Homo sapiens: one gene and its partners. The protein of the gene in region 1 interacts with the protein of each later gene in a pairwise test. Each region holds a gene or a part of one and is shown on either strand. Other genes may lie near its edges. The genes, in order: AGTRAP, PBX3 and SYT16.

Region 1 (3,748 bases):
GCATAAGGATTGCACACCCTGCAGGAGCTGGGAGGGAGACGTGGAAGTGCTCATCAGAGCTCCCCAGGGCCTGCCCCACAGTGAGGCCTCAGCACTGCAGCTTGATTTTCACCTTTACCATCTCTTTTAATCTGTTGAGCTTCTGGAGACATTTCTCTGCCAAACCAAGACTGGAAACCATTGAGCTCACCTGTGCACTTTGCAAACTTCGAAGTGCAGCGCACAGGGCAACAGCTGTGAGTAATGTGAACTGTAACCATCATGATTCACGACCTTGAGAAGCAGGGCCAAAATACAGATTTCTTAGTCACACTTCCCCAAGATTCTGAGTTGGTGATTCTGGGCTGGGACCCAGGCACCTGCTTTCTTAAAAGCAAAAGATAAGATGGTTTATTCAAAGACCTATTGAACCGAATGGCACTCCACACCTGCCTTGCACATGTCTTCTGCATGTTACACTTTAGTGAATGTCCTATAAATCTAGGAAGCGCCCGCTGCATGCAGGGGAAGGCAAGGCCCAGTGGGTTTGGTAATAAATGAGGTAGACTCAGTCCCTGTCCCCCTGAGTCTTCCTTGCAGCACAGCAGGGTGAGCAAGAGCATGGCCTCTCCAGCCAGACTCCAAATCCCAGCCCCACTGCTCAGCAACTGTGTGACCTTGGGCGAGTTACTTAACCTCATTGTGTCTCAGTTTCCTCATCTCTAAAGTGAGGGTAACAATAATACTTCCTTCCTATGGTTATTAACATAAATGTACATGAATGAGTTAATTTAAAACAGAACCATGCTAGGTACTAGCAAGTGATCGGTGTTCACTATGATTTTGATTGGATTGACAAGTAAGTCAACAATGTCAGTATCAGTACCCTAAAAATAGAATAGGGCGGGCCTTGTGTTAGGAAAGTGACGAACTTGTACTTAGCACCGGTGGGCAAGGGAAGGAGTCTCAGGGTGAACATTCGAGTCTCAGGGTGAATGACAAAAGGAGGGCCAGGTGTCAGGGTAGAGGGCGCCCGCCGCACAGGGCAGTGGCTGGGAGGTCAGTAGGGCGAGGCTGTGTCCGGGATCCCACAGGCCCCTTAGGCCCTGGTGAAGAGTCTGCATTTTATTCCAAATGGGACAGAAAACTGTTGGAGGATTTTTAGCAGAGGAGTGACAGCATCTGACTACGTTACCGGTTGCTGTTTAGAGAACAGAGTGGCAGTCAGGACGCTGGCACAGGGTGGCTGCGGCTGTCATCTGCCAGGAGAGGGAGGTGCTTTGGATCTACAGGGACACAGCCAGATCCAGGGTCTGGGTGGGAGGCGGAGCCCATGGGATTTGCTGGCACACAGCCGGGTGGCCTCGAAGACTATGGCATGTTCTGGGAGGAGGCCCTGAGACGCCGGAGCAGGAGGGAGGTGACCTGCGGGGTGGTGGCCTCCTGACGGGACTGAGCTACCTCTTCCTACAGGGGCTGCATTGTATTCTCAGGCTCCTATGCCTGGGCCAACTTCACCATCCTGGCCTTGGGCGTGTGGGCTGTGGCTCAGCGGGACTCCATCGACGCCATAAGCATGGTGAGCCAGGGTGGGGGAGAGGCGGCAAGGCGGGGAGCCGCAGCACAGGGCAAGACATAGCCTGGCTCTGCTACCCCGTCCCATCCCAATCTTCCCCCTCTTCCTTGGGCCACCACTTCCCATTGTCTAAAGCCTGTTCATCAGCCTCCTGGGCTCCGGCCCATGCCTGTGTTCAGGAGCCCAGCCTGCTGCTCTTCTTGTCTGGCTTAGAGAACCCCAAGTCTGCCATTATCTCCCTGAGGAAAGCCATGGGGTGGGTCCCACCAGTGCCTCGGATTAGCCACTTCGCAAGAGCAGTGGAACATCCCCTGTAACCTCCCTCTGCGGCTCTCTTTTAGGGGAGGGGATATGGCTGGGAGACCCGGCCAAGAGGGCATTTCACTACTTTAGGAAGTAGAGGTGACCCTGCCCCACCGAAACCTCCCACAGGGGGAGCTTCTCAGCACCCACGGAGCCCCGTGGGGCAGTGAGCACTCCCGCACGGGCTCTTCAAGCCGAGGCCAGGGCCTCAGGATGACTGAGAAGAGATTTTCTTTGTGTTGGAGAAGGACTGGGTGAACTCCAAGGAACCTTCCTCTATGGAGGTTCTAGAGCCAAGTCTTGTGCCCATCATGGCCTTGGAGATGACGGGAAATGGGTGGGGAGGGAGGCTCTGGTGGAACCGAGACCTGGGCCCCCGGCATCCCTGCCCCCAGACTGCAGTCTCAGCCAGCGGCTCCCCAGCGGGGCCCTGCCTGCTTGCTTGATCCATTTTCCCGCAAGCCCCAAGGACACAGCAGGGCATGAAACGGCTTCCCATCCGGTGTGTGGCGGGGGAGCCACGGAGCGTGGTGGGGGTGTTGTGCTCATCAGTGTGGTGTGTCTTGCAGTTTCTGGGTGGCTTGCTGGCCACCATCTTCCTGGACATCGTGCACATCAGCATCTTCTACCCGCGGGTCAGCCTCACGGACACGGGCCGCTTTGGCGTGGGCATGGCCATCCTCAGCTTGCTGCTCAAGCCGCTCTCCTGCTGCTTCGTCTACCACATGTACCGGGAGCGCGGGGGTGAGCTCCTGGTCCACACTGGTGAGGCCACCACCTCCAGCCAGCTCCTCACCGCTCCCTTCTCTCCCTTGCCTGGCCTCCAGCCTCTCCCTCAGTGAGCCAGCCTTGCCCCATGGGGCCAGGGCTCAAGGTGCAGGGAGAGCGTGGCATGGGCGCTCTGTACTAGGCTGGACAGGTCCAAGCTCCTAGTCTCTGCTGCAGGAGCCCAGGGGTCCCCTGGTTGTCCTGGTCTGCCGTGACCTTCTTCTGCTGTGAAGCTGAGGCTGGGCCCTTCTCTCAGCCCAGAACACAGGCACAGCTGGGGGTACCATTTAGTTCCCAGGGGCAGCCCTGGGCTGTCTCCATCCTGAGGGCCACGGGCACCTACAGGTCTCCTCTCTGTTCTCACCGGGGCCCATCACTGGAACCCCATTTCCTGCCACATGGGGTCTTCCCTCTCCTGCTGCAGAGACTGCTAGGTGGCCAGGGCAGAGCCCGTGCCAGTGTAGGCTGTGGGAGCCTCAGTGAAGACAGCCCTGAACAGGGGGCACTTTCCCTGCCCACCGGCCCCTCCCCACTCACCCAGCCTTACACCTGCCCTCTCCCACGCCCTCTCTGAACTCCTGTACTCCTTCTCCTGGTGGCCGAGCCATTTGCCTGCTCTCTGACACCTCTCTCTCTCTTCCTTTCTCTCTCTCTTTGAGAGGAGTGGAGGGAGGTGGTAGGGTGTGGCCTTCTGCCTTTCACTCCTGAGATGAGATGCCCCACGTGGCCTGTGACTGCCACCAGCTGGTTGAGGGTGGGAATGGCCTGGGGCTGCCCACAGTGGCTGACCTCAGCACTGCCTGGGCCTGCCCCCAGGTGAGGGGTGCCAGAATGTTTCTCCCATTGGACAGATGAGGAAACTGAGGCCCACATCCTTTGGGACTTGTTCAGGGTCCCGGGATGAATGTACAGAGTAGGGGATGGGAGTGAGGCATGTGGCGTACTCGGAGCCCTACGGCCCTGCCTTGGACCCAGCCCCAGCCTCCGAGGCCATCTGGATATGGTAATGTGGTGTCCTTGTACCTGGGAGGGGAGCTGGAGAGGAGTGCGTGGGCCCGGGGCTGATGTCCCTCTGCCCAGGTTCCTAAGCACGTGCTGCCTGGGGAAGCCCATGGCACAGGG
Region 2 (3,748 bases), on another chromosome or scaffold:
TAGCGTTTCCCGAAGAGTTTTTCCTAGCATATTGGTCCACAAGATGCCGTAGAGCTGTGCTGTTGAATATGGCAGCCACTAGCCACTTGTATCTAATGAGCACTTGAAGTCTGACTAGTCTGAACTGAGATGTGCTGTCAATGTAAAATACACACTAGATTTCAAAGAGTACAAAAAAGGAATGAAATACCTCATTAACAGTTTTTTTGTCTTTCTTTGTTTCTTTCTTTCTTAATTTTCTTTCTTTTCTTTCTCTCACTCTGTCACCCAGGCTGGATGCAGTGGCACAATCTCAGCTCACTGCAGCCTCTGCCTCCTGGGCTCAAGTGATCCTCCTACCTCAGCCTCCCAAGTAGCTGGGACCACAGGCGTGCCACCATGTCCAGCTAATTTTTTATATTTTTGGTAGAGACGGAGTTTCACCATGTTGCCCAGGCCAGGATATTTTTTATATATTGGGTTAAGTGAAATATATTGTTGATTAATTTCACCTAATTCTTTGTATTTTATTTTTTAATATGGCTACTGAGAATTTAAAAATTTAATATGTGGCTCACAATGTATTTCTATTGGACAGGATTACTCTAGAGAGAAATTTTGTGGCCAAATTTATTTGGGAAAAAGTTGGATATGCTATTTCTCCTTGAAGATTTATTACAAATATTAGGATAGGAATACTGAAGAGTCTTACCCACAAAAAGTTTTTAAGATTTTGGTTAACCCAGCAATTCCCAAACATATCATATTGTTGGACTATTAGTTAACATTCTATGGAACTAGCTGTAGAACTATAGAATTTGTTAATCCCAGTTTTGGAATAGTTCTACTTCAATTATCTTTGTTTTACTGATGAGAAAACTGAAGGGTAGAGTTGGTCACATTACATAACTTGGAAATTATATAAACATCTCCTTAGGGAAAGTTCAAGAAAAAGATATATACGTATATTTATTGGTAGGGTGACCACTTGTTTTTAATTTGGCATAAAATCATTTAAATTGATAATATAGGCCAGGTATGGTGGCTCACGCCTGTAATCCCAGCACTTTGGGAGGCCAAGGTGGGCGGATCACTTGAGGTCAGGAGTTCGAGACCAGCCTGGCCAACATGGTAAAACCTTGTCTCTACTAAAAATACAAAAATTAGCTGGGCGCAGTGGCATATGCCTGTAATCCCAGCTACTTGGAAGGCTGAGGCACGGGAATCACTCAAACTCAGAAGGCGGAGGTTGCAGTGAACCAAGATCATGCCACTGCACTCCAGACTGGGCAGCAGAATGAAACTGTCTCAAAATAATAGGCCAGGTGCTATTTATTACAGGCTCATGCCTATAATCCCAGCACTTTGGGAGGCTGAGGCAGGTAGATCACTTGAGGTCAGGAGTTCGAGACCAGCCTGACCAACATGGTGAAACCCCATCTCTACTAAAAATACAAAAAAAATTACCCGGGCATGGTGGCACACGCCTGTAATCCCAGCTACTTGGGAGGCTGAGGCAGGAGAATCGCTTGAACTTGGGAGGCGGAGATTGCAGTGAGCCAAGATCGTGCCATTGCACCACAGCCTGGGTAACAAGAGCTAAACTCCGTCTCAAAAAAAATAGTAATAAGATAAAATAAATTGATAATATAGTGGGGAAGATCTTAAATTTATTTTTTTAAATCTTGGTTTCTGCCTTCAACTTCTGGTTTTAGTCTACAACATTGCTTAATGTTTTACTGTGTCATATCCTGGGACAATGATTATTAACCTTTTAAAATTATAGACTGAGATTCTGAAAAGAAAACAAAAGCTTCACAGATTCTCTCATCAGAATTATTAATATGCACACAACTTGTGTAGGATTTCAGGAGGTCATTGACCTTCTAAACCTATCCATTGACTGCAGATTAAGAATTCTTCTCTTATGATTCAGGGATAATGAATTTATGGCTATTAACCAACATAACTCTCACTCTTGAATTGTAGTATTAAAAAGCCCACCAATCTGTAGATGTTTATTAGGTATGTATATTGCATAATTCTACACTGAAGAATCCCGTAAGTATAATATAGTGTCACCACTCACAAGGAATTTAATATTTCCTATGGCTTAAAACATATTTTTGAAAAAACTTTACATGATAAGACTCATTTTACCTTACCTTAGAAATATTTATGGAAAGCTCTATAAAATTTTAGAGTAAGTGAAATACACAGGGTTCAGGAAAGGTTAGTCCTCTAATGAGCAGTTAGAAAAACCATCATGTGCTATATGTGAGCAATGTTTGGGATATCTCTAGGGAAGTGGACATTATTATAACTTCCAAACATGTCTTGCATTGATCAGTGATTTTTCTGTCTTCTCACTCCATCAGGGACACCCGTGCAGTAAGATGCAGAATTTCCCATCCTGCATTTTTAAGAAAAATGCCAGAAGAGACTCTTTTTCTTCAGGAGTATAAACTGATGCTTTATTTACCAGGCAGTACTGGATTTCAGTGTAGGCCCAGTTATACAGATTTATAAATCAAAGAGAATATAGATGAAGTTGGATGCAGTGGCACACACCTGTAATCCTAGCAGCTCAGGAGGCTGAGGTGGGAGGATCTCTTTAGGCCAAGAGTTTGAGACAAGTCTGGGCAACATAGCAAGACCCTGACTCTAAAAAAGATTTAAAAATTAGCTGGGGGCCAGGCGCAGTGGCTCATGCCTGTAATCCTAGCACTTCGGGAGGCTGAGGCAGGTGGATTGTCTGAACTCAGGAGTTTGAGATCAGCCTGGGCAACATGGTGAAACCCCATCTCTACTAAAATACAAAAGAAATTAGCCGGGCGTGGCGGTGTGTACCTGTAGTCCCAGCTACTCGGGAGGCTGAGGCAGGAGAATTGCTTAAACTCAGGAGGCGGAGGCTGCAGTGAGCCGAGATCACACCACTGCACTCCAACACTCCATCCTGGGCGACAGAGCAAGACTCTGTCTCTACAAAAAAAAATAATAATAATAAAAAATACATAAAAAATTAGCTGGGTATGGTGGCACATGCCTGTCGTCACAGCTACTTGGGAAGCTGAGATGGGAGGATTGCTTGAGCCCAGGGGCTTGAGGCTGCAATGAACTATGATCATACCACTGCACTCTAGCCTGGGTGACACAGTGAGACTCTGAATATTAGGGGAAACAAATGTGTGTGTGTGTGTGTGTGTGTGTGTGTGTTTTTGTGTATGTACTGAAAGAGACAATGTCTGAGGATTTTTTTTTTTTTTTTGAGACAGAATCTTGGAATCTCGCTTTGTTGCCCAGGCTGGAGTGCAGTGGCGCGATCTCGGCTCACTGCAAGCTCCATCGCCTGGGTTCACGCCATTCTCCTGCCTCAGCCTCCCGAGTAGCTGGGACTACAGGCACCCGCCACCACGGTGGGCTAATTTTTTGTATTTTTAGTAGAGATGGGGTTTCACTGTGTTAGCCAGGATGGTCTCGATCTCCTGCCCTCGTGATCCACCCGCCTCAGCCTCCCAATGTGCTGGGATTACAGGCGTGAGCCACCGCGCCCGGCCTGAGGATTGTTAACTAAAAAGTTTGAGACCCAGATCTGATCCTTATTTTCTGTTGGACATCCCTTGAAGAGTTGAGCTGCTTTACAGAGATGGCTTATATCCACTAAAGGCCTGCACTACAGCTAAATTATAATAGGTCATTGGAATGCTTGGCACGCAAGGCCCTTTATGTGCTAATTCAAACCTGAATCCTTTTGCTTCTTTACATATTA
Region 3 (3,748 bases), on another chromosome or scaffold:
CACACTTTGTATAAATGAACAGAGCTGAGGAAAGGGAAATTTGGCCCAAATTAGCTGATTTTACTGGAAACACCTGATCAACATTTTTCTCTTTAAAAAGGAGGAAAGCATGTTGGTATCCCCACACATATCAGATGATGGCAAAACAGCAGGGAGAGGACAACCACCATTTACTGAAGGCCACCTGTGTGCCCATCGCTTGTAAGAGCTATGAATGACAGCCTTGTCCTAATTTAGAGAAACTGAGGACAGTGCCATGGTCCCACTGCTAGGGAATTCTAGAGAGATAAAATACAGGTCTGTTTGACTACAAAAACTCAAGCTCTCCACACTATCCTAAAGCTGTGTTCTTGGCTGGGATGATTGTTTACAAGAAAAATAATAAATTATTGCAGAAATTTTGACATCTCATTTTCCCATCTCTTTTCCTCCTCACCTCTCAAAAAAAAAAAAAAAAAAATACCTTCCAAAGGGCCTCTGTAGCCAGCACACCATTTGATTTTTGTTTTTTTCCTCTGTGGCCCAGACTGGAGTGCAATGGCAGGGTCATAGCTCACAGCAGCCTCGCACTCCTGGGCTCAAGTGATCCTCCCGCCTCGGCCTCCCAAAGTGCTGGGATTACAGGCCTGAGCCAGCACATCCAGCCCCATTCACTCATCTAATGAAGTCCCTAACATGCGCCACACCTGTGCTAGGGACTTTGGATGCTAGGTACGCAGGTGTGACTTGGTTTTACTCTGAACTCCCTTTGAAGCTTCACTAATACGTATCTGGCTTCAAACGCAACTAACTTAACCAGTTTTCACAGACGGGATTCCAATTTCCAAAGGCACTGAGCCATAAGAGCAGCGGTGCCAAGATGCCAAAAGCAGGCCAACCCAGCGCCTTCCAACGCTTCCATTCAGAGTTTCAACCTGATGTCTCCAGGCACTCCTCCCACCCACTGACCATGGTAACCAGATGCGGTCTCCAGCCGGCCTTGTGCTGCCCGCTGCGAATACAGCCCGTGGGCCACCGGGCAGCCGAGCCATGCAAGCCACCCTGATCCCCAAAAGGCAGACGCACAAACCCGACCCAGAACTCGAGGCGAACCTTGAACTCACAGCGCCAAAAACGCGCAGTGCCTTCGTTTGCCCGGCTCGCTGAAGGCTGGCTCTGGGCCTGGGGGCAGTGCCCGCGAAGGGCTGCGATGGCAGGCCCCGCTGCCACACGGCATCGAGGGTCCCTCCGCCTCGGCGCCAGGCGCACGCCCTTCTGCCACATCCCTCGCGGGGCGCGCCGCCAGGGCCACCTGCCCTTTCAAGCCCCGCCAGGCAGCCAAGGGTGAGGAGCGGAGAGGGACCCGGCCGCTGCTGCCGCGAGCCAGCACAAAGGCAGCGTCTGAAATCGAACTTCCCACCCTGGGCACCGCGGCCTCCCCCCACCCCTGGCCTCCGCGGCCGGAGCGCACTCACTGTCAGTCGCCATGGTCGGACGAGGGGGCTGCCCGACGGCCGCCCAGGTTCGGGAAACCGGCGCCGAGCCCGGCCGGGCGCGCGCTCCTCGGCAGGCCCGGTGCGCTCGGGGGCCGCGCCGCGCACAGCCCCTCCTGCCGCGCGCCCCCGCCGCGCCGCGCCGCCCCGCGCCGCCCCGCGCCCAGCAGCCGCCAGCCCTGCGGCCGCCGCCGGCGTCCTGAGAGCCCAGCCTCCCGGGCAGAACGGCCGAGCTGCGGCGCCTAGAGGCTGGATCTCCCCCTCCTCGCCTCGCCGCGTCCGTCCCCCTCCCCTCCTTTCCTTTCCCGCCCCTCCCCCAAAGAGGATGCTCGCCGCAACTTGGAAACACGCTCCCGGCCACGCTAGGGTCGCCTCTCCACGCCACCTTTCCTACAACGTTCCCGCTATATCCTTGTTTTCGAGTCACCTTTTCCATTCTCCGCTTCATCCCTACCTCGAGCTTCTCACCAGCGGGGTTGGGACCCCATGCTCAGCCCCAGCTGGAAGGAGCAAAGCGGGAGAAGAGCTAGGGGTGTGGGGAGGATGAGCCAGGTGCTGGGCATTAATCCTCCGGGGCAGGAGCTCTCCTGCGAAACCGCTCAACGCCATCTCCGTAGGCTCCAAGTGGGCCGTGCTCTTCATGTCACCCTCTGTTTTGTCTCCGATGTGAAAATAGTTCCCAGCACGTAGTAGGCTCTCAGCAGATTTCTGTTGAGTGGGTGAATGGATGTCTTTATAACTGGATGCCTGCATGAATGAATGAATGAATGGCCAACTAACTGATTGGACGTCCACTGGATGAGCAACTGATACATGATCATAGCCAACTACAGCCCTGCCACTGACTAGGGATGGACGCTAGAGTAAGTAAGTGGACCAGGCCGAATGAGTGAGCCGGAGTCTTGTGCCTCACAGGCCATTGTGGTTCAGGAGGGCTCTGAACTGAGGCTGTCAGTTCAGAATGATGTTGTATACATCTTCTTGAAGTCCAAAAACCAATTTCTGATGGATTATTGGATTATTCTGCCATTACTTTTGCACCAACCTAATATATTAGGGGACAGTTGTACATTAGAAACCCCCGTCTCCACCACCAGATCCATCATGTGAAGGATCAAATGGCTCAAACACATCCCCTAAATTACATGGCAGGCTAGATACTTCTTAAAGATACAATACATTTCGCCCAGGCATGGTGGCTTAAGCCTGTAATCCCAACACTTTGGGAGGCCAAAGTAGGAGAATCACTTTAGCCCGGGAGTTCAAGTCTGCAGTAAACTATGATTGCACCACTGCACTCCAGCCTGGGTGAAAGAGCAAGACCCTGTCCCTAGTTTTTAAAAGAAGAAAAAAGGGCCGGGTTCACGCCTGTAATCCTAGCACTTTGAGAGGTCTAGGCAGGTGGATAGCTTGAGCCCAAGAGTTTGAGACAAGCCTGGGCAACATAGTGAGACCCTGTCTCTAGAAAAAATAAAACAAAAATTAGCCAGGCTGGTGGTGCATGCCTGTGGTCCCAGCTACTCAGTAGGCTGAGGGGGAAGATCACTTGAGGCTGGGAGGTGAAGGCCGCAGTGAGCTGAGATCATACTACTGCACTCCAGCCTGGGTGACAGAATGAGACCCTGTCTTAAAAATAAAATAAAATAAAAATACAAAGATACAATCCATTTGATGCATTTGGAGATGCACATTCAACCCAATCAGCCCCGGGCTGGATGCTGAGAAGACTCAGGAGCAAGGCTCCCGTCTGCCTATCCACTAGCTCCCACGTGGCTAGGCAGACAGAAAACTGCCAGAGAACAACACAGGAGTCCTCTCTGGTCAGTTCACAGAGCACGATGAGGGAGAGAATATTCTGATCAGGCTCCACATTCTGATTCAGTCCACCTAGAGTAGCACTTAGGGGTGTCCTTTTTTTAAATTGTGTTTAGCCTTTATTTGTTTTAACACAGGTGATTCTGAAGCAGACTTCTAGTTAAGAACCACAGAGACCTGGTTCATTTGTCTTTCACAACAACCATCTGCAGTAGACCCAAAAGCCAACACTCTGGAAGTGGGTTGGATGGGGAAAAGGAAAAAAGAATTAAACATGACCCTGGAGTCTTTAACCTGTTTGGAGCTCACAAACCAGGAGGTTAAAGGAAAAAAGAATTAAACATGACCCTGGAGTCTTCAACCTGTTTGGAGCTCACAAACCAGGAGGTTAAGCTGGTGTGAGGGCAAAAAGGGTGGGTTGGGCTTGGATTCAATTGAAGGGTCAGTGGAACATGTGTGAG

What was found.
Region 2: the proteins of AGTRAP (region 1) and PBX3 interact in a two-hybrid assay, tested with the Homo sapiens proteins (4 studies listed by BioGRID).
Region 3: the proteins of AGTRAP (region 1) and SYT16 interact in binary tests that used the Homo sapiens proteins (3 or more experiments, as listed by UniProt).

What each region holds. Positions count from the first base shown.
Region 1 is NC_000001.11:11,745,988-11,749,735, forward strand, and holds part of AGTRAP (type-1 angiotensin II receptor-associated protein), read left to right. Parts: intron 1-139; coding exon of another isoform or gene 140-236; intron 237-1,452; coding exon 1,453-1,558; intron 1,559-2,427; coding exon 2,428-2,623; intron 2,624-3,748. UniProt on the Homo sapiens protein: Appears to be a negative regulator of type-1 angiotensin II receptor-mediated signaling by regulating receptor internalization as well as mechanism of receptor desensitization such as phosphorylation.
Region 2 is NC_000009.12:125,925,229-125,928,976, forward strand, and holds part of PBX3 (pre-B-cell leukemia transcription factor 3), read left to right. Parts: intron 1-3,748. UniProt on the Homo sapiens protein: Transcriptional activator that binds the sequence 5'-ATCAATCAA-3'.
Region 3 is NC_000014.9:61,810,517-61,814,264, reverse strand, and holds the start of SYT16 (synaptotagmin-16), read right to left. Parts: upstream 1,563-3,748; 5' UTR 1,468-1,562; coding exon of another isoform or gene 1,455-1,467; intron 1-1,454. UniProt on the Homo sapiens protein: May be involved in the trafficking and exocytosis of secretory vesicles in non-neuronal tissues. Is Ca(2+)-independent.